Homo sapiens: one gene and its partners. The protein of the gene in region 1 interacts with the protein of each later gene in a pairwise test. Each region holds a gene or a part of one and is shown in the gene's direction. Other genes may lie near its edges. The genes, in order: EIF4A2, PDCD4, IPO11 and DPPA4.

Region 1 (6,990 bases):
TTCTCCATTTTCTTCAACTCTGTTAATATCTTTACCTATCTTGATGCAAATTATTATCATTATTATTTTGAGACATAATCTTTCTCCATCGCCTAGGTTGGAGTGCAGTGGCGGGATCTCAGCTCACTGCAACCTCCGCCTCCCGAATTCAAGCAATTCTCCTGCCTGAGTAGCTGGGATTACAGGTGTGCGCCAACACAACCGGCTAATTTTTGTATTTTATCCCCACCGAGACGGAGTCTTGCTCTGTCGCCCGGGCTAGAGTGCAGTGGCGTGATCTTGGCTCACTGCAACCTCCGCCTCCCAGGTTCAAGCAATTCTCCTGCCTCAGCCTCCTGAGTAGCTGGGATTACAGGAGCACACTACCACATCAGACTGATTTTTGTATTTTTAGTAGAAAGGGAGTTTCACCAGGTTGGCCAGACTGGTCACGAACTCCTGACCTCAAGTGACCCGCCCGCCTCGGCCTCCCAAAGTGTTGGGATTAGGCATGAGCCACCATGCCTAGCCTAATTTTTTTATTTTTAGTAGAGACTGGATTTCTCCGTGTTCGCCAGGCTGGTCTGGAACTCCTAATCTCAATTGTTCGGCTTGCCTCAGCCTCCCAAAGTGCTGGGATCACAGGCGTGAGCCACCATGCCCAACCACAAATGTTTTTTAAGTTATAGTGTAAGAACATGGCAGTAAGTTCAACCCTCCAAATTGCGTCAGGGGTCACAGGCAAGCAGAACCTAGCCTCTAATTTCCTCAGAAACTGTGTAATAAAAAGAGGTTACAGAGATTATCCTGGGTTTGCCAAAAAAGAAAAAAAGGAAAAGAAAAAGAAAAAGAGGTGAGTAGCACCACCATCTCTATCCAGCTCTGGGCAGTGTTTTTTTTTTGTTTTTTTGTTTTTTTTTAAGGTGGAGTCTTACTCTGTCATCCAGGCTGGAATGCAGTGGCGCGATCTCTGTTCACTGCAATCTCCACCTCCCGGGTTCAAGTGATTCTCATGCCTCAGCCTCCTGAGTAGCTGGGACTACAGGTACATGCCACCACACCCAGCTAATTTTTTATATTTTTAGTAGAGATGGGCTTTCACCATGTTAGCAAGGATGGTCTCAATCTGCTGACCTCGTGATCCACCTGGCTTAGCTTCCCAAAGTGCTGGGATTACAGGCGTGAGCCGCCGGGCCTGGCCCAGTTATTTTTAAACACTGAAATTACAGATGTAAGGACAGCATGTACTATATACTTTGTGCTTTATACTTTATTATTACTAAATAACAACATTAATACGTAATAATTAGATCCAAAACACATACCTTAACAAATGTCTATATATCAATAGATTATCTAGACACCGCTTTAAATGTGCAGCTATCACTTAAAATCAACTGATGGGTTCAAAATAATGTAAGAATCTCAAGATGGCATACAAATGCGCCCTGAATGATGAGAGTACATGGTACTTTTTATAGGAAGATGTCACTATCAACACAAAGCATATTTTTTATTATTTATTTATTTTTAGACAGAGTCTTGCTCTGTCACCCAGGCTGGAGTGCAATCTCCGCCTCCCGTGTTCAAGCGATTCTCCTGCCTCAGCCTCCGGAGTAGCTGGGACTACAGGCGCACACCACCACACCCAGCTAATTTTTGTACTTTTAGTAGAGACAGGGTTTCGTCATGTTGGCCAGGATGGTCTTGATCTCCTGACCTCGTGATCTGCCCATCTTGGCATCCCAAAGTGCTGCGATTACAGGCATGAGCCACCGCGCCCGTCTGAAAGCATATTCTTTTAAGGTTTTGTTATTGTTTTTCCATGTAGCACTGACAGATTTGTACTAATTCTTTGCTTCTCTGGTTGCTAGATAGCTTTAGAATTGTCAGCTGAGGCTCTTGAAGAGCAAAACTAAACTACCTTAGTTGGCTTAGATAGGGAAATAATCTGACTTTTAGGATTATTTGCAGTATAAATGATTTCAAACACTAAAGGTTGACAAAGAAGCATTTATAGTTCACTGAGAAGGCTATCTTATTTCAGATTCCAGGTAAGCAGAATCACTTAAATTTAAAAGAGCACGCTCTGTGTTGATATGCAAAACTTTGTTAAAGTATACGTTTTGATCTTTAATTCATTTATTAGTTACAAATGTTATTTACTATTTAGTAAGCACACGCAAATGTGGTAATCACTGCATTTATTAGGAATACACTGTAAGGTTACAGGCAGTGTGGGTGTGGATTTTGACTGTATTTGAAGTTTTCTTACCTTGAAACTTACTTAGCACTTGTAAACCTATACCATAGAGTTTAGCCTTTATTTCCTCTTAAGAGACTTGAAAATCCTACACCATCTAGTGTAGTGCTAATCCTAAAGAAAACAACCAACGATTAAGTGTTAATTGTTGATTGGTATCACCCTATGATCAATTGTTTTCACCCTAAGGCTCAAGTGAAACCAAACGGTTGGTCACTTTTTCGATTTAGTATTTTTTCAATTTCTTAGATCTCAGGATATTTTTAGTAGATTTTGGATGAGACAACAAGGATGTCTGACGACCATCATTCTCAGAAAATATCTGGCATCACCTCAAATCTGGATTTCGAACATTACAGAGGGATGAATGAGGAGCAGTACCACTGGACTGAGGGCCTGGCCCACTTTGCCATCTTGGTATTCTTAATCTTTGTCCTAGTTCCTGGCACGATAAGAATTTTCAAATAAATAAATAATTTTTGTATTAAAAAAGTAGTATTTAGAACCGAATATCTTCTATAATATAGAAAATTGAGTCAGCTTTCCCAGTAATGATTCTTTAAGTTGGCCTTCTGAAATATGAGAAAATGTTACCCTGATAGTCTCGATGATATTTTGCACCATGGGTAGGGTTGTATTTTAAAGTTAAATGACTACATATATTGTTTTTTGTTTTTGTCGAGAGACCTGAGATGGGGCTAATTGAAAACGTCTGGAGCTTAAAGACCCGTGCAGTTTACGCAGCAAGGATATTATTGCTCTGAATTTCAATAAATCAACATTTCACTATATATCGGCAAAGTCTACAGCCTTTAAAAAATGACCAATATAGACGGAATCAAAACCGATGTAGTCCCAAAGCGGCACAGAGCTGTATCTGCCAAAGCGTCCATTTAAATTCGTGCGTTCCAAGGAAAATTACTGCTTAGTTTCTATCCATTTGCAAAAGTTTATGATTTTTTTCAGGCATTCCTCACACCTGTTAGGTTAAAATCAGTAACACTCTTAAAAAGAAAGCGAGAGACCGGAAATGATATGAGAATAGAATTGGCCACTCCAGAGACATCTGCAAATGACACTCCATTTTTCCTTCTCGCGCTGCAAAATGTACCGGTAAACCGGACTTCCCGGGACTCGCTGGGTGGCCGACATTTTCCCTAGCAGGAATTTTACGTTTCCAAGATCTGAATGGATGTTAACGGTCGGGCTAAATGCCAGGCAGGTCTTCATTGTGGAATTAAACAGCGGTGGGAGCAAGCGGAATAACCGAGTTCCCCTCCCGCACCTGAGTGCCGGCAGCGAGCCGCGAGCCGGGACCTGTCACCCGCGGGAAGCCCCGGCCGCCCGACGAACAGCATCTCCGGTTTCCGCCTCCGGCTCCGGCGCGGCTCCCCCGGCCCGCCTCTGCGTCAGGGACGCGGAAACCCCGTAGGAGCAGGGCGGGCGGGGAAAGCGAGGTTTAACTAACTCCGCAGCTATATTCTTCCGCCGCGAGGTAAAGAGTCCCAACCCAACCCCGGGCCCTAGGATTTCCAGCGACCCTGTAATATCGAGAAATTACCACATTTGGGTTTTTCTACCAACTTGCTTAGGATTTTATCCGAGGTAACGACCCCAGGATCACAATTTTGTAGCTGACCGAAGCACGGCGAGAAAATTCCTCCGCAAGAAACGGGTTCCGGCCACGAGCCTATAAAAAACGGGTGGTTGGGCGCCGCTGTCTTTTCAGTCGGGCGCTGAGTGGTTTTTCGGATCATGTCTGGTGGCTCCGCGGATTATAACAGGTATGCAGTCTGTTGGCGGTCGCGGTCTGTAGTGAAGGTCATAGGGCGCCAGGGGAGATGATAGTGGATGGCACGGAGGCAAAAACTCTAAATTAATGGACGTTTTCTTAGGGTACAGCACTCCTGTGCCCTTCCAGAAGCTTCCATGATGGGTAGGGCCCGGATTGTGGGGAGATAGGACGGTGGTGCGAAAGCAGTGGCTAAAGGGCGTTTTTCCTCTCTAAGACATTACGAAACTTCGGCTGCTTTCCTTCCCAGTGTAGAGCACGGGAAACATGGAGTAAAAAGCCGTGGCGCAGTCCGAGTTCGGTACACTGTAACCAGGACCCGAAGCTTTATTTTCGGTCATCCACACGAGTTGGGGGAGGGTCCTAGGCTTTACTTGGGGAAGGGTTGGAGGCAGCGGTCTCCACTCGGCCACGGCGCGGAGGCGACGGGACAGGACCGGTGCCGGTGAACCGTTGGCATCGCCCTCGCCAGGCCGCTCCGCCCGCGTCAATCACCCGGCTTGCGCATTGTTGGGGGCGGAGTTCGGCGCTCCGAGCTCTCGCGAGACGCTCCGCAGTTGAAACGGGATCGCCATGCGCTCGGGCCTGGGGGGCTGCCTTTCCGGGCATCCGCAGGCCCCAACCTTTAGGGAAGGCGCACAGTGTGGATATTCGCCCTGAGGCTGCTGCTTTAGCTTGTGCAGGGGAGGCTAACGTGCTGAGACGGGTTGCAAAGGGCTATGCGCTTAAGGTGCAGTTGAGGTGGCCTGGAAGGGGTGTCTGACTGCAGTATTCTTGTCAGCAGAGAACATGGCGGCCCAGAGGGAATGGACCCCGATGGTGTCATCGAGGTAAGAAACGGTTGTGGATCTTGAAGCTTTGGAAAGGTGAGTGTGTTCATCTCATTTATGCGTGCATTATTTTTTCTAACTTACAGAGCAACTGGAATGAGATTGTTGATAACTTTGATGATATGAATTTAAAGGAGTCTCTCCTTCGTGGCATCTATGCTTACGGTTTTGAGAAGCCTTCCGCTATTCAGCAGAGAGCTATTATTCCCTGTATTAAAGGTAAAAGAAACTGGCATTTTTAGGAAATTGTTCTACATAGACATGAACCATAAAAGGGAAAGTAACCTCTGGGGGACTAGCACCTGTTTGTATTCCTTAAAGTGAAATGATGGCAATCATCTTTCGGGACTGACCTGAAATGAAGAGAATACTCATTGCTGATCACTTGATTATTTGGGCATAATGTTCCAAATGGAATACATGGTGTGAAGTAGAAGTGACAATTTGATGTGGGATCGGTAAATGTGTATCCTACTTTTTTTAGGGTATGATGTGATTGCTCAAGCTCAGTCAGGTACTGGCAAGACAGCCACATTTGCTATTTCCATCCTGCAACAGTTGGAGATTGAGTTCAAGGAGACCCAAGCACTAGTATTGGCCCCCACCAGAGAACTGGCTCAACAGGTATTGATAGTGTAGTTCAAAAAAACTGCTTGCGTGTTGCATAGGTTTCAGGTTTCACAACTGTGAAGAATTTAAAACTTAGTATAAATTGGTCCTACCAGATCCCTCCTTTTAATTGTCCATGCATGCAGGGAGTTTTTGTTGAAAGTTTTAAAAGAACTGGGTATGCAGGTATGGTTTGTAGGGTTGTATACTAATAGATTGAGAATCCGAAGCGCTCTCTTGGATGTACTAGATCTGTCCCCATTTTTTAAGTTTGAATGCAGTTGTGCAACATGAAAACTGCAGTGACATGTTACCATTTGACTGTCTCCGTAGTTCGTGATGCATCTGTTGCATGCTATGTTTTCAAAGCTCACTGCTATATTGGCTTTGAAGTAAACCTTCCTAATAAAGCTGTAGGCTTTATTGAGGTCAGGATTATATAAGGCACAATACCCTCTGGGGGAAAAAAATCATTTGCCCTAGCTGTAATTACAGAACATAAATTTCACTACGTACTCCCTACCTACAGTGAAGAATAATGTAGGAAACGTTATTCTTGGATTGTCTAGCTGATGCGTGGAGCAGCAGCATCCCAAGTTTGACAAGGCATAAGAAAGACATTAAGGGAATTTTACCTTGCAGCAGTTAGGTCGTCTGCATTTTAAGCTTGGAAGTAGTTTTGTGCTGTGCATGCATAAAAGCTGTTGGCAGACCAGATTATATTTGCCTTTATGCTTTAAAAATTAGTCATTGATCCTGGAGTTCTGCGGAATAATAATTAAGGCTTGGGTTTTAGATCCAAAAGGTAATTCTGGCACTTGGAGACTATATGGGAGCCACTTGTCATGCCTGCATTGGTGGAACAAATGTTCGAAATGAAATGCAAAAACTGCAGGCTGAAGCACCACATATTGTTGTTGGTACACCCGGGAGAGTGTTTGATATGTTAAACAGAAGATACCTTTGTAAGTATTGTCTTTAAGAGAGTATTTTTTTTAAAACTGTTAACATAGTTGAAAAGTCAAATTGTATCACTGAGTAGATCTAGAAATGACAGTATGACTTTGTTTCTAACAGCTCCAAAATGGATCAAAATGTTTGTTTTGGATGAAGCAGATGAAATGTTGAGCCGTGGTTTTAAGGATCAAATCTATGAGATTTTCCAAAAACTAAACACAAGTATTCAGGTAAGCATTACTTCACCCCCCTCTTAAAGGTAGAGATGGGGTTTATTTAATGCAGGTACTGTTACAATACAACTGATGTGTTTTGTTGTCGTTCCCCCTGCTTAAAGCACTTGATGCATAACTCTGTCTACCTTCATTCCGTAGTAAGACAGAGACGCTTGGCTTCAGACATTTTCCTTTGGGTATTAATGTGTAAGTTGTGCTACAACATAATTTTCTCTTTTTAAGGTTGTGTTGCTTTCTGCCACAATGCCAACTGATGTGTTGGAAGTGACCAAAAAATTCATGAGAGATCCAATTCGAATTCTGGTGAAAAAGGAAGAATTGACC
Region 2 (7,027 bases), on another chromosome or scaffold:
AACGTCTAGATCTGAATTTTAATGTTTTCCTAGATCTCACGGTGAGTTCTCTTTAGCTCTTTATTTTGGGTTCTGTAGTAGATTGGTCTGTTTCACTGCTGTTTCTCTAGTACCCGAAATAGTGACTAGTACACTGTAGGCAAATATTTGTTGAATAAGAGTTTTCTGACGATTTCATCACCTTCTGAATGGTGGGAACTTCAATTTATAGCCTAGGTTTCTTGTAAAATGTTTTTGTGATCTGTCAAAAATTAGTTTTGTTAAATGCCTCTGCAATCATGTTTTATATCAAAATGAAACCTGGTTGTCAGATTCTGTTTTGGTCTGATGGCAAGGATATACTTGGTACAAAATAAAAACCTCCAAAAACAGAAATGTTGGTGACATTGTAAAGGTTCTTTAAAAAATAGTGTAGTACATTAGTCCTTAAAACATTTCAGTAAGTTGATGTAGAAAAGCAACTTTGAAAATTGGAATTGTTAAGCTTCTTTTGGTTGTTTTGTATTTAGAAAACAGAATTTTCAGGGCTGTTAATGCTTAAAAGCAGTTAGAATTCTTTTCTATATTTATAACATATTGCTAGTTGTATGGTTTAATGTGTACTTTAATATTTAAAGAGTACTGTATTTGACCTTAAAATATTTGATGGTGGTTACTGTCCTTTTTTGTTAAATAATTTTTCCCTTGTTGAGTTTTCTATGCTAAGCTTTACCGGCCCAGAATGTTTCTTTTTGTCTTAGTCTCAAAGAAATGTCGAATAAAATTTAGAGCTCAGCTGCAATATCATCTCCTTTGAGGTCCTCAATATAGCTATTTTTTTATCTTTATTTGTTTTTGCTTTTATTTTAAAGCATCTGCTTTTTTAGTTTTTAACTTCATAAGCTATTTTAACTTAATGTTTTTGGAAATATTGAAAGAGTGGTCTGAACAAAAACCAGTAGGGGAAGAAAACTGGAAAAAAACTAACACGTTAAATACAATTTTTTTTTAGCTGTTGTTTAACATCGGAACATTTTATTTTAGATTTCAACAAATTGATGAATTTTGTGTTTTTTCTTTCTCAATGCTAAACTTTTTCAGGTGGTGCAGGAGGCAAAGGTGTCTGGGGTACACCTGGACAGGTGTATGATGTGGAGGAGGTGGATGTGAAAGATCCTAACTATGATGATGACCAGGTATCAGTGCTTTGCTTTTTCATAATATTTAAAATGTTTATGAACTTTTTTGACTTCATGTTTGTAGTTTACTCATACATGTGTCAAATCATATGTATAAATGTTTTGGATTAGGAAACCAAGTAAACTGACAGTAATACATGCATAACTTTCACTTGGTTTCTGTAGTGAGTCAAAAATAGCTCTTTAGAAATTCACTTAGGATTATTAAGTTGTCCATTTTTCAGTAAATTCTGTTAATATAGTTTGTTTCTATAGTAATGATAATTGAGAATATCTTCTTTTGAATATTATGAGTTACAGATATTAGATTCCTTTTAAATATTACTGTTTAGAATGGTAACTATATAATACATTTTGTTTTGGGGACATGCGCATCTTTCTTTTAGGGATAATGCTGAAAATGTAAATTTTTAATAGATTGTGAAGTGAATTTTTTATTTTTTTTAATGGAAAAAATTTAAAGTAGAATAGTATAATCTGCTTGTACTCCTCTCTTAGCTTTACAAACTTAAATAATTACAAACTCATAGGCAGTCTTGTTTAATTCCATTTACTCTCCGTCTTCTATTGGCCCCTTTGCCCCACCCTGTTTTGGATTATTTTGAAGCAAATCCCAAATGTTTTGATTATGTTTTTTGAAAATTTGTCTTTGCACAAGGTGAGACACGGTGATGGAAATTTTAGACAGGAAAACGTTAAGAGTATGTGTTAGGTTGTTTTTATTGTGTGTTGTATGTATGTATTTAAGTGTTTTAACTAATAGATATGGAAATATTTCTAAGAGAACATGAAAAATATGAAACTAGTAGGATTCAAGTACTGTAGAATCTTTGCTAAAAATGTATTAATCTTTCAAGTATATGTTTTTAGGCTGAAGCCAGTCACAAGTTGTAAATATAGCAGTCCCCTCTTATCCGTGGTTTCACTTTCCGCAGTTTCAGTTACCCATGGTCCAATGTGGTTTGAAAATATTGAGTGGAAACTTTCAGAAGTAATTCATAAGTTTTAAATTGCATGCCATTCTGAGTAGTGTGATGAGATCTCCTGCTGTCCAGCTTCATCCACCTCATCCTGCCCAGGATGTGAGCCATTCCGTTGTCCAGCGTGTATCCGCAATGTATACACTACTCGTGCATTCGTCACATGGTAGCTGTCTAGGTTATCGGATTGAGAAAACAGTATTTATTGGGTTCGGTACTATCTGTGGTTTAAGGCATCCTCGGACGGGGCTTGGAACATACCCCTTGTAGATAAGGGGGCACTACATTTCAGAGCTTTTTTAGCATGGGGAGAGAGGAATGGTTTGATGATGGATGTTAATTTTCTTTTTGAAATTTCAATTGAACAGTGCTTTTTTCCTTAGAGATTTTTTTTCTGTCACTACAACATTGATCTTTGTGTTATACTTTTTATTATAATAATGCTAATCGTGAAGGCTTTGGTTCCTGCTTCATTTTTTTTTAAAGTGAAATTTTAATTAAAACACCATTTATGATAGGAAGCCATCATGAAACTTTTTGATTACTAAAAGATTGGTTTTGAGAGAGACATAAAAATTTTGAGAGAAAAAATTAACAGAAGACATGGGGGTTGGGAGCAAATTATGTATTTGCTGTGGTTAATGATTCTAATCTATATATTGGCTTATTGTATTCTGATTTTGTAAAAGAGCAGTGACATATAAATTCTACTATTTTTATTATGATTTATTATTATTATTTTTTAGCTTTGTTGTCCAGGCTGGAGTGCAGTGATGAATTATAGCTCACTGCAGCCTCGAACTCTTGGGCTTAAGAGATCCTTCTGCCTCAGCTTCCTGAGTAGCTAGGACTACAGGGGCAAGCTACCATGTCTGGCTAATTTTTAAAACTTTTTTGTAGAGACAGGGTCTTGCTATGTTTCCCAGGCTAGTATTGAACTCCAGGCCTCAAGTGAACCTCCCGCCTTTGCCTCCCAAAGTGTTGGGATTATAGGTATGAGTCTCCTTGCCTGGCCTAGATTCTATTTTTATATGCGATCAATGTATGTAGCATGTCTTTGTCTTGTGCTAAGTGGGGATTATTAACCACTTAGAATATAAAATTGTACAACAATTTCACTTGTTTATTTGCATTTTGTTTTTTATAACTCTTACTCCCTTTTCCCCTCAAAGGAGAACTGTGTTTATGAAACTGTAGTTTTGCCTTTGGATGAAAGGGCATTTGAGAAGACTTTAACACCAATCATACAGGAATATTTTGAGCATGGAGATACTAATGAAGTTGCGGTAGGTTTAAAGTTGCAAGTATAATTTATTTAATATAGGAGAGAAGACATCTTTTATAAGCAAAATACATCTACAATGATCTTGGGTCACTGAATAAATTTAATCATTTTCTTTTGCATAAGTGAATTTCTAAGAAATGGAATAAAATCTCATTACATTAAAACAGTTATATATTTGGGATGTGATGAGAGCTGTGTGCCATTTTGTTCTCTGAAAAATGACACAATATTTTTATAATTTTTATAATTATAATTTGTAATGTATATGAATTTATAAAATCTGTTTTTATAATTTATAAAATATAATTTTAGCAGTTTGAGGGCACTTCTAGACGCCCCCCGAAACCTCTTCAGGGATCTCAGTTAAGAATGCCTGACATAGTTTCATTTTTTTGACATTTATTTCACGTATGTTCAGAAGTAGGATAAAATCTTTTTGTACTTTGTCCAAAAAAAACCCCACAAATAATAAAGATTTGAAAAAGAATATACAGAAGCCATGAGAATAATCATGATTTGTTCATAAAGTAAATCTAGGATAAAATAAAACCATTGGTCTAGTTAGGATTATCAAATTAAAGTAATACAATTGTAACTCTTTAGAAGACTTTGATCATTTAGATTCTTAAAATTTAGACTGGACTTTTATGATTTGTCTGATACTGTGAGGTTTGATATCTTTGGATTTGTAGGATTTGAATATAAGACAAATATTTGTTCAGTGCATACCATCTGGAGGAATTTGTAATAGGTGATTCTTGCCCTTTTGAAGCCCAGTCAAGTGAAAGAAATGATATGTAAACAGATTATTAAAATACGTGAAACGTTCTGTTATAGAGGAAAAGTTTCCATGAGTCCTATGAGGGCAGGGACTGTTGAAATCTTGTTAATCTACCTAGCATAAGATCAATTGTATACTATGTATCTGTTAACTGAGTACTGTTTGGAAAGCATAAAATAGAGAGTAATAGTAGAGATGATTCTCTGCTGTCTGAAGGATGTTGAGGAGTTCGCCAGTTAAGATAGTTTTCCAGGAAAGAGGAGTATTGTGTTTGAGGGTAGTGGATTAGTTGTTAAAGTGCGGTCAAGGAAGATGAAATGCAGTCAGTGAGAAGAGATTACTAACAAGGACACCAGTTACGTGGCTGTGAAAATAGTTTTGGCACTCTCTTAGTAGTATATCATGATTTAAAGATTCTAAGAAAACTTTCATTAAAGAGGAGGGCACTCTAACTGAATTAGAACTTAGCTTCTAGAGTCAGACTGCCTTTATTCCACTTTCAGTTTGGCTACTCCAGCTGTGTGCCCTCTCTCCTTTGAGTATGATAGGTGTGATAATTTAATACTCAAAGGGCTATTTGAGTATTAAATAAGATAATATAACTAAAGAGGCTATTATAATGCCTGATACATTAGTCAATAAGTATTAGCTGCAGCTATTATATTTCTAAAAGGAAATTTTAAATTTACCCCAGAATCTTAAACCAATAATCCCATTTAAAAACAGTTGTTTAAGATCTCATTTTAAACTTGATACAAAAGTGTGAAGTGAATTTTTATTTCAAGAGAAGTCTTTGAAGAAAAGTAGAATATAAATAGCTTATGATAATCTAAAATGAATTTTTCCACAAATTCTCATAAAACAATATTTATAGTAATAATAGATTGTAAGGCAGGTTAGTTAACTCCTAATACCAATCTCAGCAATATTATGTAGTTTAATGAACTAGCCATGAGCTGCATAATGACGTTTCCATGACAGACTGCATATATACCTTTGGTCTCATATAATACTCTTTTTACTGTATCTTTTCTGTGTTTAGATAGGTAACCACTGTGTTAACAGTTGTCTACAGTATTCAGTATAGTAACATACTATACAGGTTTGTAGCCCGGGAGCAATAGGTTATACCATGTAGCCTACATGTAGGCTCTGCCATTTAGGTTTGTGTAAGTACACTCTATAATGATTGCACACTGATGAAATCACCTAAATGGTGAATTTCTCAGAATGTATCTGTGTCGTGACCCATGACAGTATTTTAAAGGTATTTCACATTTTTGAATTTAGCGATGTTAAGGCAGTTAAAGCTTGACAAAGTGGATCAATGTCTGATTTATGCACAGGGAAAGGTGTGTTTATCCTATCTTCTAAAACATGACTGGGTCTTTTGATTATTTCCAAAGAGTGAGACGTAGAGATATATAGATAAAAGCTCAATTTTTCAAAAATAAAATTTTATTGAACTATAGGTAGTGATACACTTTTAAAATGTTTTTAAATTATTTTTTTGAACAGGAAATGTTAAGAGATTTAAATCTTGGTGAAATGAAAAGTGGAGTACCAGTGTTGGCAGTATCCTTAGCATTGGAGGGGAAGGCTAGTCATAGAGAGATGACATCTAAGCTTCTTTCTGACCTTTGTGGGACAGTAATGAGCACAACTGATGTGGAAAAATCATTTGATAAATTGTTGAAAGATCTACCTGAATTAGCACTGGATACTCCTAGAGCACCACAGGTTTGTATGATTCTTCTTTTTGTTCATTCCCTCCCACTACTATATTCCTAATTGTGGAAATAATGTATACTCCTAGGAAATTTTAGTAGATGGAAGGGGATGGCCAACATTTCCTACGACACCGAAATATTCCGCTAGCATTTTGATGTATTTTTTCCTAGTTCTTTTGTTTTTTAAACATGGTCTTCATCATGCTATAAATTTAATGTTATCTTGTACTTTTCCCCTATGATCTGCATAGTTTTTAGGTAATTTTTTTTTTTTTGCCATATATATAGTCTTTGTTATATGTAGTTGTTTTATTAGCTAAGATTTTTAAAAAATGTAGGTTATGATTGAATGCTTCACTAATGTTTATTATAAGAAGTCATAAATAAGACTCTTCCCTTTTGTAGCTTTGAAAATGTGAAATTGTTGCTATTGTCAAAAGTTTTTAATCAAGGTAAAATCACTTTACTTAAAACATTAATTTAGAAATAGAATATAGGCATGTCAGTTCCTAAATGCTGTTTCTGTTAAACTTAATGACAGACAATACTCGGTATGAGATATTAAGTGGTGATTCTAATGCAGACATTTTTTCCTTTTATACCAATACACATACTTTAAGAAAATGATTACATAAGTTTATATTTATTGTAGAATTTTTGAAAAATAAAAGCCAGAAAGAAGAAAGGCCAGCAAAAACTGCTACTGGTGTTAAGTTTTCCATTCTCCTTTCTGTGGGTATATATCAATGTATGGCTTCTATAAATCCTTAATTTTTTAAAATTAAAAAAATGGAATCATACCATTATGCTATTTTATAAACTTGATTTTTCTCATACCATAAAATATGGTAAATATCTTTCCCTGTGGCCACATAGTATACCATTTTATGTGTATACCATTTAACCATACCTTTATTTTTGGACACCAATTTCCAGTTTTTATAATAAGTAATGCTGTGAACATACTTTCAACTATTTCTATACAACTTTTTTTCTCCACAAGATAAATTCCTTTGATTAGTTTTTGAGAGAACCTAGTCCTTTTTTTTTGTTTTGTTTTAAGAAGAGAGGAC
Region 3 (7,027 bases), on another chromosome or scaffold:
GGGATTACAGGCTTGAGCCACCACGCCCGGCCCCCTCTTTACTCTTTACTGGATAAAGTTCCCTTCTGCTTCATAGAGGAAATGAAATACATTGAGTGGGAACTTCATTGCTTTCTGTTCTGTTTCACCTGCAAACATGAAGACCTCTATCTGTCCATCTCTAATGATATTCTGAGTTTTTTCTCCTTACGGGCAATATTTCCTTCATGTGTTTGCTAGGGCCGCCACAACAAAATACCTTATATTGGGTAGCTTAAACAAGAGAATTTTTTTTCTCACAGTTCTGGAGAGTGGAAGTCTAAGATCAAGGTGCAGATAAGATTGGTTTCCTGTAAGACCTCCATCCTTGGCTTGCAGATGGCCACCTTCTTGCTGCCTTTTCTCGTGGTCATCCTGTGTGTACATGCACCTCTGCTGTATCTTTCTGTTTTCTTTTTTTTTCTTTTCTTTTTTTTTTTTTTTTTGAGACGGAGCCTCGCTCTTGTCTCCCAGGCTGGAGTGCAGTGGCCCGCTCTCAGGTCACTGCAACCTCCGCCTTCCCGGTTCAAGCGATTCTCCTGCCTCAGCCTCCTGAGTAGTTGGGATTACAGGCGCTCACCACCACGCCCGGCTAATTTTTATATTTTTAGTAGAGACGGGTTTCACCATGTTGTCCAGGCTGGTCTCAAACTCCTGACCTCAGGTGATCTGCCCGCCTCAGCCTCCCAAAGTGCTGGGATTACAGGCGTGAGCCACTGCACTGGCCTGCTGTTTCTTTTTCTTATAATGGCATCAGTTATATTGGTTTAGGGCCTTACCCTAACAACCTCATCTTATCTTAATCACCTTAAAAACTTTATCTCCAAATACTGAGGGTTCGGGGGTTAGGGCTTCAACATGAATTTTTAAGGAACACAGTTCAATCCATAACATTCAGTTACTCCTTTTTCAACTAGTACTAACTTAACAAGGATTTAAGCATACCCAAGTCTCTTATTATCTTTTTTTTTTTTTATTTTTTTTTTTTGAGACAGAGTACTCACTCTGTTTCTCAGGCTTGAGTGCAGTGGTGCTATCTTGGCTCACTGCAACTTCTGCCTCCCAGGCTCAAGCGATCCCTCCACCTCAGCCTCTCTGGTGGCTGGGACCACAGGTGAGGCGCAGGCCACCATGCTTGGCTAATTTTTGAATTTTTTTTTGTAGAGATGGGGTTTTGCCACATTGCCCAGGCTTGTCTCAAACTCCTGGGTTCAAGCGATCCACTGGCCTTGGCCTCCTGAAGTGTATTGGAATTATATGGGTGAGCCACCGTGCCTGGCCTCAAATCAAGTCTTATCTGAAATATACGCTCCTTACCTTAGATTCTTAGATTCCTCTTCAGCTTTATCTATAATTATTTTTCTTAGTTTTTTTTTTTCTCCTTTTTTTAAGAGACAAGGTCTCTTGTTACCTAGGCTGGCCTCAAACTTCAGGGCTCAAGTGATCCTGCCACTTCAATCTCATGAGTAGCTGGTACTACTTGTGTGTGCCACCATGCCCAGCTTATTTCCTTTAAGTTTCTTGAAAGAATTCTCTATATTCATTTTCTTCACCTCCTTATTGGTTAATTTTTTTTTTTTTTTTTTTTTTTTTTGGTATTTTGAAGGCTGACAGTCCATAGCAGTCACTGAATTTGATGTAGTGGTGATCACCATTGATATCTTTGTTGCTAAATCTAATGGAATCTGTTTAATCATTTGCCATTTTAACTACTTGTTCGTTCTTGAAATTTTCTTCTTATACTTCTGGGACACCATATTTTCCTTATTTCCTTCTTAGGTTTTAGCCAGTCTTTTGTTGGTTATTTTTCTCTTTTCTCTGACCACTTTAGATGTTTGACTCTGAGGCACTACCCTGCTCTCTTCTGAAAACCTTCAGATAAAAATCCAAACTACGTAGTTTAGGAAATAAGGACTTCAATGCACACTCTTCATGAATGGTCTCATTTGTGACTTCAACTATTGCCTCTATTTTGATGACTCCCAAATCTGGCTTTTTAGCACAGGTCTCTCTTCAACGCTGACATATGTAGTTGTCTTAAAATACTTGACATTCATGTCAAAAACGTTGTGTATTTCAACCTTCCTGACATTGTTTTCCTCCTATGAGCCATGCAGGCACCAATCAGTTGGAAAAGCCCAAAATCTTAATTCTTTCCCCTTATTAACTTATGTGTAACCCCTCCTCCAACTCTCCAACTATCTAATTATTTTATTTCCAACTCTCCAACTAGCCATTATTTATTTATTTATTTCTGAGACAGAATTTCACTCGTAGCCCAGGCTAAAGTGCAATGGTGCAATCTCGTCTCACCGCAACCTCTGCCTCCCAAGTTCGAGTGATTCTCCTGCTGCAGCTTTCCGAGTAGCTGGGATTACAGGCATGCACTACCATGCCCACGCCTGCCTAGTTTTTTTTTTTTTTTCTTTGAGAGAGAGTTTCACTCTTATTGACCAAGCTGGAGTGCAGTGGCACCATCTCGGCTCACTGCGACCTCCGCCTTCTGGGTTCAAGTGATTCTTCTGCCTCAGCCTCCTGAGTAGCTGGGATTACAGACGTGCGCCACCATGCCTGGCTAATTTTGTATTTTTAGTAGAGTATGTTGGTCAGGCTGATCTCAAACTCCTGACCTCAGGTGATCCACCTGCCTCGGCCTTCTAAAGTATTGGGATTACAGGCATGAGCCACTGCACCCAGCCAACACATATCATATAGTTTAAAATGTAAGTGTTTCCAGTACAGTAAGCTATTAACAGTATAGTGCTATGAACAGCATTCATATAGTTAATAGCATTATGCAGAAAAATTAAGGATATCGGGAACATAGAGATTCTTGGTTGAGGAGTGAGCCCTTTTAGATTGGCAGTTAGTGGAGACCTCTTTAAATAGAGGACAACTTGAGCAGAATGGAATGCTGTCAAAGAGCAAGACATGCTTTTATCTAGAGACCAGAGCTTTCCAGCCAGAGGGAACAAATTGTACAAGGGATAAGATACATTTTATACATATTTCACTAAAGATGTTCACGTATTGTCTCCAAGTCTCTGTTAATATAGATAACTAGGTCATGCAGACAACCTAGTCCTTTGTCTCCTTATTCTTATATGCCTGTGCAGGGGTTTCTGTGATTATAGCACCAGGTGTGAAACTGCTGGGTCATAGAAGATACAGTCACGAGTTGCTTAAGGCTGGGATACATCCTGAGAAATGGGTCGTTAGGCAATTTTGTTGTTCTATGAACATCATATGAACAAACCTAGATGGTACAGCCTATTATACACTTGGGCTATGTGGTATATAGCTTATTGTATCTAGGCTATAAGCCTGTACAGCATGTTACTGCACTGAATACTGTAAGCAGTTGTCACAAAATGGTAAGTATTTGTGTGTTTAAACATGTCTAAACTTAGAAAGGTACTGTAAAAATACAGTGTAGAAGTAAAAAATGGTACATCTGTACAGGGCACTTACCTCGAATGGAGCTTGGAGGACTGGAAATTGGTTTGGATGAATCAGTGAGTGAGTGGTGAGTGAAAGTGAAGGCCTAGGGCATTATTGTACACTTAGGCTAAAATAAATTTATTAAGAAATTTTTTTCTTCAATAATCTTAGCTTATTGTAACTTTTAGTTTATAAACTTTTTGTCTCTGTTGCAGTAACACTTAGCTTAAAACACAAATACATTGTGTAGTTCTACGTTGTTTAAAACAGACGCAAACACACACATTAACTCAGGTACACACAAGGTCAGGATCATCAATATCTCTGTCTTCCACCTCCACATCTTGTCTCACTGGAAGGTCTTCGGGGGCAATAACATTCATGGAGCTGTCATCTTCTATGATAGCAATGACTTCTTCTGAATTATCTCCTGAAGGACCTGTCTGAGGCTGTTTTACAGTTAACTTTTTTTTTTAATAGGAGTAGTACATTGTAAAATTATGATAAGAAGTATAGTAGTGGGGCTTGGTGGCTCACTTCTGTAATCCCAGGGTTTAGGGAAGCTGAGGTGGGAGGATTGCTTGAGGTCTGGGGTTTGAAATCAGCCAGGGCAACATAGCCAGACCCCATCTCTACAAAAAGTAAAAAAATTAGCATGGCATGATGGCTCATCCCTGTAGTCCCAAGTCTCAACTATTCAGGAGGCTGAGGTGGAATGACTGCTTGAGCCCAAGAGTTCAACGTTGTAGTGAATTATGATGCCGGCATTGCTCTCTACCTCAGGTGACAGAGATCGTAACTCTTAAAAAAAGTAGGCTGGGCGTGGTGGCTCACGCCTGTAATCTTAGCACTTCGGGAGGCCAAGGCGGGTGGATCACGGGGTCAGGAGATTGAGACCAGCCTGGCCAACATGGTGATACCCTGTTTCTACTAAAAAAATACAAAAATTAGCCAGGCGTGGTGGCACACACCTGTAATCCCAGCTACTTGGGAGGCTGAGGCAGGAGAATTGCTTGAACCCGGGCGATGGAGGTTTCAGTGAGCCAAGATCGTACCACTGCACTCCAGCCTGGGCAACAAGAGTGAAGCTCCGTCTCAAAAAAAAAAAAAAAAAAAGTATAATGTAGTAAATGCATAAACCAGTAACATAGTTGCTTATTATCACTTTCAAGTGTTATGTACTGTACCTAATTGTATGTGCTCTGCTTTTATACAAATGGCAGTGCAGTAGGTTAGTTTACACCAGCATCACCACTAACGTGTGAGTAATGTGATTTACTACGACTTAGGATGGCTATGATGTCACTATGTGATAGGAATTTTAAAGCTCCATTAAAATCTTACGGGATCACTGTCGTATATATGTGGTCCATATCTGACTGAAACTTTTTTTTTTTTTTTTTGAGACAGGGTCTCACTCTGTCACCCAGGCTGGAGTGCAGTGGCACGATCGTGGCTCACTGCAGCCTTGACCTCCTGGGCTCAGGTGATTCTCCCATCTCAGCCTCCTGAGTAGCTGGGACTACAGGTGTGCCCCACCATGCCCAGCTAACTTTTTGTTTTTTTAGTAGTGATGGGGTTTCTCCATGTTGCCCAGGCTGGTCTTGAACTCCTGCACTCTAAGTGATCCACCCGCCTCAGCCTTCCAAAGTGTTGGATTACAGGCGTGAGCCGCCATTTTTATGTGGTGTGTGACCCTCTGTGTGTCCTGGTCATAGAATACACAAAATATATACTCAATTTCATTAGAGACAGCTAGATAGCTCTCCAAAGTTGTATTAATAGATATTCCCAGTAGCAGTGTTTAAGAGTTTCTGTTTCCATGCATTCTTGCCAGCATTGAATATTTTTGGACTTTGTAATTTTTGCTAGTCTGATCATAAAGTAGTTTTTCACTGTTTGGATTTTAAATCCCTGATAACCAGTGAGATAGCATCTCTTCTGATATTAATTAAACATTTAGCTCTTCTTTTCTATATATTTTCTGCTTACACCCTTTGTTCACTTTTCTTATATATTTGTCTTGTTGATTCACAAGGGTTCCTTGTATATTCTGTATAATACACCTTTGTTTTAGTTATGTATTAATAACATTTCTTCTCTTAATCTTCACCTTGTTAACCTTGTGTAGGGTATCTTCAATGACTCCATCAATTTCAGTCTTCAGTTCTGATGTAGTATAATTCATTAGGCAGATAGGCTGTGAACTTGATGTATTTTTGTTCTTTCTCAAGTCTAAAGCTAAAAATTCCCAGTTAATTTCACTTGAGATATTAATGGACAGCACTGAACAAAAGTAAAAGTGTTTAATCTTTCGGGAGTACTGGGTGGGGACAGGAGACTTACATTTAAAGTTCTAGAAATGTCACTAATGAGCCTGTGACCTTAGAGAAGTCAGTTTATCTCCTTATCTTTTGGCCACAGTGTCTTGGTCAGTAAAACAAAATACTTAAACTGTGTAGAGAACTGATATGGGTGGCTCCAAGGTGATAGGAAAATTATATTTATTTACTTGTTAACTTATATGGACTCACAACTGAGAGAAAAATTATTTTAATGATAAAATGTAGAATAGTGATTAACTGTGGGATTATTACTTGGCATACAGCACATGCATGTTTGAACAAATGGGTTTTTATAAATACAATGACAGGCTGAGCTCTTTATAGCAAGAATGAGATTCTTATAAGATACAGCTTTATAGACAGTGATGTCTTCAACCAGTAAATGGAAACTACCAATCGAAGATGTCTATATTTGGAGAGAGGACTGATGATCTCTTACACTCAGCAAAAAGTTTTGCCTAACTGCTAGTTATAAATTATAGTCTGTTAAATTTAATCTAGGCTGTGTTGTTATCTCTATTCAGTGCCTTAATCAAAATCAGTTTTATAGCTTTTCCTTCCTATTTTTTTTCATATCCAAGAAGGAACTTTATTTATTTATTTTTTGAGATGGAATCTTGCTTGTTGCCCAGGCTGGAGTGCAGTGACACCATCTTGGCTCACTGCAACCTCCACCTCCTGGGTTCAAGCAGTTCTCCTGCCTCAGCCTCCCTAGTAGCTGGGATTATAGGTGCCCACCACCATGCTCAGCTAATTTTTGTGTTTTTAGTAGAAATGGGGTTTCACCATGTTGGCCAGGCTGGTCTCAAACTCCTGACCTCAGGTGATCTGCCTGCCTCGGCCTCCAAAAGTGCTGGGATTACAGGTGTGAGCCACTGCCCAGCCAGAGAAGGACCTTTAAAAGCAATAAGCATAACTGCTGTTCCTTAGTGGGTTTTGTACAGACATGTATTTTTGTTTTTCAGCTAAGGAGACACCAGAGGGTGATGGTTGACAGTAGTTGGTACCTCACAGCTGGGCACTGATCAGGTAGGGGGTGTCAATATTGTTTAGGATAATGTATAACTTTTCTTATTAGGGGGAGATTAGTCACGGGGAACTCTTGTATATACCAAACAGGCAAGAGACTTATTGCAGTTTATCAGTGCCATTTTACTAAAAACTCCCGGTGAGACAGAAATACTCAAGTTTTTCGGACAGGTCTTCCTCTCACAGGTCTGCCT
Region 4 (7,027 bases), about 77 Mb from region 1:
TGGAATATAGTAAGTGAGTTAAGGGCCTCTTTTTTTTTTTTGAGACAGTCTCATTCTGTCACCCAGGCTGGAGTGCAGTGGTGCAGCCTCTACCTACCTCCCTGGCTCAAGCAATCCTCCTATCTCAGTCTCGAGTAGCTGGACTACACGCACACACCACCATGCTCAGCTAATTTTGTTTCCTTATGTAGAGGCAAGGTTTCACTATGTTGTTGCTCAGGCTGGTATCCAGTTACTGGACTCAAGCAATCCTCTTGCCTAGGCCTCCTATAGCACTCAGACTACAGGCGTGAGCCTACCTAAGCGCTTTTTCCCCTCAAGGCAGAGCTGTTTTCTTCTACTCTTGTTTGTATCTGTCTTTTCATGTGCTTTCAAACTGGCTTCCTCCCTTTTTTTCCATCATTGTTTCCCAGTCTTGTAAATGAAACTGAGTATTAAGATGATACCCAGAGGAGAATCCACACTGCCAGTGGAGTCCAGTAACTGCGTTGGTGCCTTAGAAGTGAGTTATCTTGAGGCAGGTAGTGTATGTGTGGTTTGGACACTAGAGGAATGACTGACCAGCTCCTCTGTTCCCCAGTGGACCTCCACAGAGAAGTCGAGGGAAGAGGATCAGCAGGCTTCTAATCAACCAAATTCAATTGCTTTGCCAGGAACATCAGCAAAGAGAACCAAAGAAAAAATGTCTATCAAAGGCAGTAAAGGTAAGAGGTCTTCAAATTCTCAAATCCCACCTTCTCGGGTCTTAGAAGCCAGAGGAATTTTTCTGAAGAAGAAAAACCAGGGAAGAAATTTCCATCATGTATTGTGCAAATCCTGCACTTCATGGAAGCCAAGCTTAAACTGTTACCTTCCTGAAGCATCTTTTGGTCACCACTGCTCTAACTGATCCCTTCCTATCTTCAGACTTCCACAGCATATTTGGTTCTGCTGATCATTTTTTCCTTCACTTGCTACTTGGAGTTAAGGATTTCAGTGTGCAATGATTTGGGAACAGACAGCTGTAAATTTGAAGATCCATTCTTGAAACCGGACTTCCTATTCTAAAAATAAGTTAGGACAATATCTACCTTTATTAAGCGGTGGGAATGGAGTGTTAAAATTTACATAGAGTAGTTAAGTGAAGCACTTAGACTATGCCTGAGAAGTAATATGTACAGAGTAAACCCTACTATTAGTGTCATTACAGGCTGGTTTTTTTTTTTTTTTTTTTTTTTTTTTTTTGAGACACCAAGACAGGGTGTTGCTCTGTCATCCAGGCTGGAGTGTGGTGGCACCATCTCAGCTCCCTGCAACCTGTGCCTCCCGAGTTCAAGCAATTCTCCTGTCTCAGCCTCCCAAGTTAGCTAGGATTGCAGGCGTGTGCCACCATGCCTGGCTGATTTTTGTATTTTTAGTAGAGACAGGGTTTCACCATATTGGCCAGGCTGATTGCAAACTCTTGGCCTCAAGTGATCGTCTGCCTTGGCCTCCTAAAGTGCTGGGGTTACAGGTGTGAGGCACCATGCCCAGCCTTAGAAATTTTTATGGCACGATCCCGGCCCACTACAACCTCTGCCTCCCGGGTTCAAACAGTTCTCCTGCCTCAGCCTCCCAAGTAGCTGGGATTACAGGCATGTGCCACCACGCCCAGCTAATTTTTTAAGTAGAGACGGCGTTTCACCATGTTGACCATGCTGATCTCCAACTCCTGACCTCAGGTTATCCACCCACCTCGGCCTCCCAAAGTGCTGGGATTACAGTGTGAGCCACTGCGCCCAGCCAGAAATCTTTACTGAATGAAGACAAGGTATGTGAGGTGCAGAAGCGGGATGAACAGAAACACAGCAGAGCTAAGGAAACATACCTGCTATGAAACCAGAGTGCTTCCCTGACCTAGGGTGGGCTGGCAGAATTAAGGGTATTAGTGGTTGCCTGTGTAGCATTGTCAGGTGTTGATTTTGCTCTGGGGGTAGAGGACACCACTGAGTATGATCTCAAGTCTAAGACAGCGGTAATTCCCCTGGGATGGAAGTGCAACCTCCGATGCCACCACCTGGATTCTGTGGATTAAGGAGCTCACAAAGGAGCAAGTGTACCTCAGTAGTGGGGCAATTTAGGAATAAAACTGGGTTTTAGAAGTGGTAAATCCTAGGTTTGAGAGGGATTGGACTATTAACTAAAAGTGATTTTAGGCTGGGCGCGGTGGCTTAGGCCTGTAATCTCAGAACTTTGGGAGGCCTAGGTGGGCAGATCACAAGGTCAGGAGTTCGAGACCAGCTTGGCCAACATGGTGAAACCCCATCTCCACTAAAAATACAAAAAATTAGCCGGGCGTGGTGGTGGGCGTCTGTAATCCCAGCTACTCAGGAGGCTGAGGCAGGAGAATCACTTGAACCCACGAGGCGGAGGTTGCAGGGAGCCAAGATCGCGCCACTGCACTCCAGCCGGGCGACAGAGCAAGATTCTGTCTCAAAAAAGAAAAAAAAAGTGATTTTACTTTTGAAATTCAGAAAAGCTACACAAAGATAATTACTACTCATTTGATTCCATTCTGCTTCAGTGCTCTGCCCTAAGAAAAAGGCAGAGCACACTGACAACCCCAGACCTCAGAAGAAGATACCAATCCCTCCATTACCTTCTAAACTGCCACCTGTTAATCTGATTCACCGGGACATTCTGCGGGCCTGGTGCCAACAATTGAAGCTGAGCTCCAAAGGCCAGGTGAGGTCCCAGGCTGGGGACGGTGCTGCTGGGAGGAAGGGTAGGAACCTTATTTGCCTTACTAACTCAGTTTTCTATTGTCTTAGAAATTGGATGCATATAAGCGCCTGTGTGCCTTTGCCTACCCAAATCAAAAGGTAACTTTTTAAAGGATGGACGTTTCAATGCTTATCCTAATTACCTATTGTAGCCTCAAAAGTGAGTAAAGGAACTGTCTTAGCCTCACCTTGTTCCTCCACCCCTAGTTCTAAGAAAGAACAATATTTCCCATCTCTACTTCTCTTTTTTTTCTTTCTTTCTTTCTTTTTTTTTTTTTTTTTTTTTTTTGAGACAGAGTCTTGCACTGTCACCCAGGCTGGAGTGCAGTGGCACCATCTCGGCTCACTGCAACCTTCACTTCCCGGGTTCAAGCAATTCTCCTGCCTCAGCCTCCAGAGTAGCTCGGATTACAGGCGCCTGCCTCAGGTGATCCACCCACTTCGGCCTCCCAAAGTGCTGGGATTACAGGCGTGAACCACTGTGCCTGGCCAGCAATTTTCTTTTTTTCTATTTTTTTCTTTTCATTTCTTTTCTTTTCTTTTCTTTCTTTTTTTTTTTTTTTTTTTTTTTTGAGACAGAGTCTCCCTCTGTCACTTAGGCTGCAGTTCAGGCTGCAACCTCTGCCTCCCTGGTTCAAGTGATGCCCCTGTCTCAGCCCCTGGAGTAGCTGAGATTACAAGCATGAGCCACCATGCCTGGATAATTTTTGTATTTTTAGTAGAGACGGGATTTCACCATGTTGGCCAGGCTGGTCTCGAACTCCTGACCTCAAGTGTTTCACCCACCTTGGCCTCCCAAAGTGCTGGGATTACAGACCTGAGCCACTGGGTGGCCAACTGAGCAATTTTCAAGAAGACAGTACATTGTTATTAACTATGTATAGTTACCAACTTGTACAATAGATCTCTTGAACCTAGTCCTCCTAAGTGAAACTTTGTATTTGATCAAGAGCTCCTTAGGCCATTTTTGTTAGAATTTTAATCTGTATTTTTATCTTTATTATTTAACCCTTTTTGTAGGATTTTCCTAGCACAGCAAAAGAGGCCAAAATCCGGAAATCATTGCAAAAAAAATTAAAGGTGGAAAAGGGGGAAACGTCCCTGCAAAGTTCTGAGACACATCCTCCTGAAGTGGCTCTTCCTCCTGTGGGGGAGCCGCCTGCCCTGGAAAATTCCACTGCTCTCCTTGAGGGAGTTAATACAGTTGTGGTGACAACTTCTGCCCCAGAGGCTTTGCTGGCCTCCTGGGCGAGAATTTCAGCCAGGGCGAGGACACCAGAGGCAGTGGAATCTCCACAAGAGGCCTCTGGTAAGCGCAACATGAAGAGCTTATTCTGGTCCAATGGGGAAATAAGCTTAGTAGATATTAATCACTGGTACATTTTAGGGTATATCAAAATCCCTTTGAGGGCCGGTGATTCCTGGACCCTGCCCACAGAGTTTCTGGTGCAGGTCTAGGGCAGGACCTGAGCATTTATTTGCATTTCTTTTTTTTTTTTCCTTTTTTTTTTTTTTTTTTTTTTTTTTTTTTTGAGACAGTTTCTCCCTTGTTGCCCAGGCTAGAGTGCAGTGGCGCGATCTCAGCTCACCGCAACCTCCACCTCCCAGGTTCAAGCAATTCTCCTGCCTCAGCCTTCCTGAGTAGCTGGGATTACAGGCATGTGCCACCATGCCCGGCTAATGTTGTCTTTTTAGTAGAGATGGGGTTTCTCCATGTTGGTCAGGCTGGTCTCGAACTCCCGACCTCAGATGATCCTCCCACCTTGGCCTCCCAAAGTGCTGGGATTACAGGCGTGAGCCACCGTACCTGGCAAGAGTTTGCATCTCTAACAGTTTCCCAGGCAGTACTAAGGATGCTGGTCTGGGGACCACAGTTTGAGAACCACTGCTCTAAATTATTGATGGCATCAGAAGGGGATAGCAGTCTGGTTTTCTTTCTTTACCCTTTAAGCAATTTAAATTAAAGGCAAGGTCTAAAATTAATTGCCTGCAACTGAGCCCCAGAATGGCATTAATAAGTTATTTAAAATATTTCCCAGCGTTTTCATTGTAAAATGGGTAATACCTACCTTATATGTTGGAAGAATTACAGAAAGTACAACAAAAGAAGACAAACTGCTTAGCATAATCCAATGTGTGTTAAGAGCTGAGACCCCTGAGCTTATTTCATGAAGCCCTTTCCAGACACTCTGGGTTAGTCTTTCTACCATCTGCCCACCTACAACTATACTACTTCCAACTAGATTTTTAAGTTTTAACAGGAACTGTCTTGTATGCTTTTTGTTTTGTTTTGCTTTTGATATGGAGTCTCGCTCTGTCACCCAGGCTGGAGTGCAGTGGTGCAATCTTGGCTCACTGCAAGCACCGCCTCCCGGGTTCACGCCATTCTCCTGCCTCAGCCTCCTGAGTAGCTGGGACTACAGGCCCCCGCCACCACGCCTGGCTAATTTTTTGTATTTTTAGTAGAAACGGGGTTTCACTGTGTTAGCCAGGATGGTCTCGATCTCCTGACCTCGTGATCCACCCGCCTCGGCCTCCCAAAGTGCTGGGATTACAAGCGTGAGCCACTGCGCCCAGCTTGTATGCTTTTCTAAAGGAGAACAGAATAGAGAAGAGGTTAAGTTAGGATTTCAGGGTTCACATCTTGGAGCTGGTCAATCAAGGGTGATGGGCCATAATGCAGTCTTACATCAGTATGTCATCCTGGTGTGCGGGTACCTGTCTCTTTCCTTTGCCATTGCCAGGTGTCAGGTGGTGTGTGGTCCATGGGAAAAGTCTCCCTGCAGACACAGATGGTTGGGTTCACCTGCAGTTTCATGCTGGTCAAGCCTGGGTTCCAGAAAAGCAAGAAGGGAGAGTGAGTGCACTCTTCTTGCTTCCTGCCTCCAATTTTCCACCCCCGCACCTTGAAGACAATATGTTGTGCCCCAAATGTGTTCACAGGTAATTACCTGATGCTTTTCTACAAACTAAAAGTGGGTGCCGGATTTTCAATTGCAGAAAGTTAAGATATACATTAATCTTAAATAGCCAGGTATTTCAAGCTCAAATTGTCAGTAAAGAGTTTCAAGAAAATTATTACTCAGTTAAGTTTATCCCCAGGAAAAAGAAAGCATTTATGTGTCAGGGTTTAATGCTTCTACCTGGAGACACAGAATTCTGGGAGCAACAAACATTATATAATTACTATATTCAAAGTGTATGCTCTACACAGAAATAATGACTAGCAAAAAACCTCTTCCTTTAAGTAGCCTACAGTCTTAACAGGGATGGTGGGCATGTAAACACCTAGAATAACATGATGAATATCAAAGAAGAGGTTCCTTAAGTTAAGGGAAGAATCGACTAGATGGAAAGGAGAGATCGGTAATTTCTCAGCCTGGGAAACGTAGCAAGACCATCTCCCACAGGAGGAAGTATGTGAATGTGTGATTGGCTTTTCCTTCTTTGGGATATCCTACTTTTTGCTGTGAGTGTTTTGATAATCTCTCTATGCCAAGCAAGTTGAAGAGAACTGAGGAGGTCACTTTGGGTAGTCCTTTAATGACATACTTAGGTTTTTGGGAAAGTGATGAAAAGAGCCCCTCCAAGGCCTCCTGTCCATGGTTGGCACAAGTCAGGGAATATATTACAGAGGCATGATAACTTGGCTGATGATCTTCATTCTTGAATGACAGGATCACAGGCTTGCTACCTATGATCCTAAAGTTGTAAGGGCAATTTCAACAGCATTCCAGCAGCGGGTTTCTTGGCTATTTTTAATATTTCTTCATTCTTTTTAAAAACAAATACTTTATTTGCTTTATAGGAACAAGGTCTTAATAAAAAGCCTCCAATGGGAATAGAATATCAGGAAAAAGGCCACATCTATGGTAATTAATGGCAGAAAAGCTGGAGAGTTGGATTCTGCGGTGCTGCTGACAGGTGAACTCTGGTCCTCTGCACCTGTTTATGGGCCATGCAGACTGGTGGGGTGGCAGATGTTAGCCTAAGACCCCTAGCAGTGCCTGTTGCTTTGTGAGTGGAGATAGAGACTCTTACATTTAAAAATGGAAAAACATTTCACAAATTACCATAAATTGTAGTTAATATGTAGAAAAACTCATTCATACTACTTTTCTAAAATAGACATGACTTCAGCAGCAGCTTTTTTTTGTTGTATTTTGAGACAGTGTCTCACTGTTGCCCAGGCTGGAGTGCAGTGGTGCAATCTCAGTTCAGTGCAATCTCCGCCTCCTGGGTTCAAATGATTCTCCTGCCTCAGCCTCCTGAGTAGCTAGGTACAG

The links.
Region 2: the proteins of EIF4A2 (region 1) and PDCD4 interact in binary tests that used the Homo sapiens proteins (3 or more experiments, as listed by UniProt).
Region 3: the proteins of EIF4A2 (region 1) and IPO11 interact in binary tests that used the Homo sapiens proteins (3 or more experiments, as listed by UniProt).
Region 4: the proteins of EIF4A2 (region 1) and DPPA4 interact in binary tests that used the Homo sapiens proteins (3 or more experiments, as listed by UniProt).

What each region holds. Positions count from the first base shown.
Region 1 is NC_000003.12:186,779,614-186,786,603, forward strand, and holds the start of EIF4A2 (eukaryotic initiation factor 4A-II), read left to right. Parts: upstream 1-3,963; 5' UTR 3,964-3,997; coding exon 3,998-4,026; intron 4,027-4,818; coding exon 4,819-4,864; intron 4,865-4,950; coding exon 4,951-5,083; intron 5,084-5,182; exon of another isoform or gene 5,183-5,252; intron 5,253-5,348; coding exon 5,349-5,488; intron 5,489-6,269; coding exon 6,270-6,438; intron 6,439-6,550; coding exon 6,551-6,660; intron 6,661-6,709; exon of another isoform or gene 6,710-6,834; intron 6,835-6,888; coding exon 6,889-6,990. UniProt on the Homo sapiens protein: ATP-dependent RNA helicase which is a subunit of the eIF4F complex involved in cap recognition and is required for mRNA binding to ribosome.
Region 2 is NC_000010.11:110,881,923-110,888,949, forward strand, and holds part of PDCD4 (programmed cell death protein 4), read left to right. Parts: intron 1-1,080; coding exon 1,081-1,175; intron 1,176-3,330; coding exon 3,331-3,444; intron 3,445-5,742; coding exon 5,743-5,964; intron 5,965-7,027. UniProt on the Homo sapiens protein: Inhibits translation initiation and cap-dependent translation. May excert its function by hindering the interaction between EIF4A1 and EIF4G. Inhibits the helicase activity of EIF4A. Modulates the activation of JUN kinase.
Region 3 is NC_000005.10:62,415,736-62,422,762, forward strand, and holds part of IPO11 (importin-11), read left to right. Parts: intron 1-3,148; exon of another isoform or gene 3,149-3,278; coding exon of another isoform or gene 3,279-3,392; intron 3,393-7,027. UniProt on the Homo sapiens protein: Functions in nuclear protein import as nuclear transport receptor. Serves as receptor for nuclear localization signals (NLS) in cargo substrates.
Region 4 is NC_000003.12:109,327,547-109,334,573, reverse strand, and holds part of DPPA4 (developmental pluripotency-associated protein 4), read left to right. Parts: intron 1-580; coding exon 581-704; intron 705-2,542; coding exon 2,543-2,703; intron 2,704-2,789; coding exon 2,790-2,840; intron 2,841-3,761; coding exon 3,762-4,050; intron 4,051-5,485; coding exon 5,486-5,684; intron 5,685-6,549; coding exon 6,550-6,586; 3' UTR 6,587-7,027. UniProt on the Homo sapiens protein: May be involved in the maintenance of active epigenetic status of target genes. May inhibit differentiation of embryonic cells into a primitive ectoderm lineage.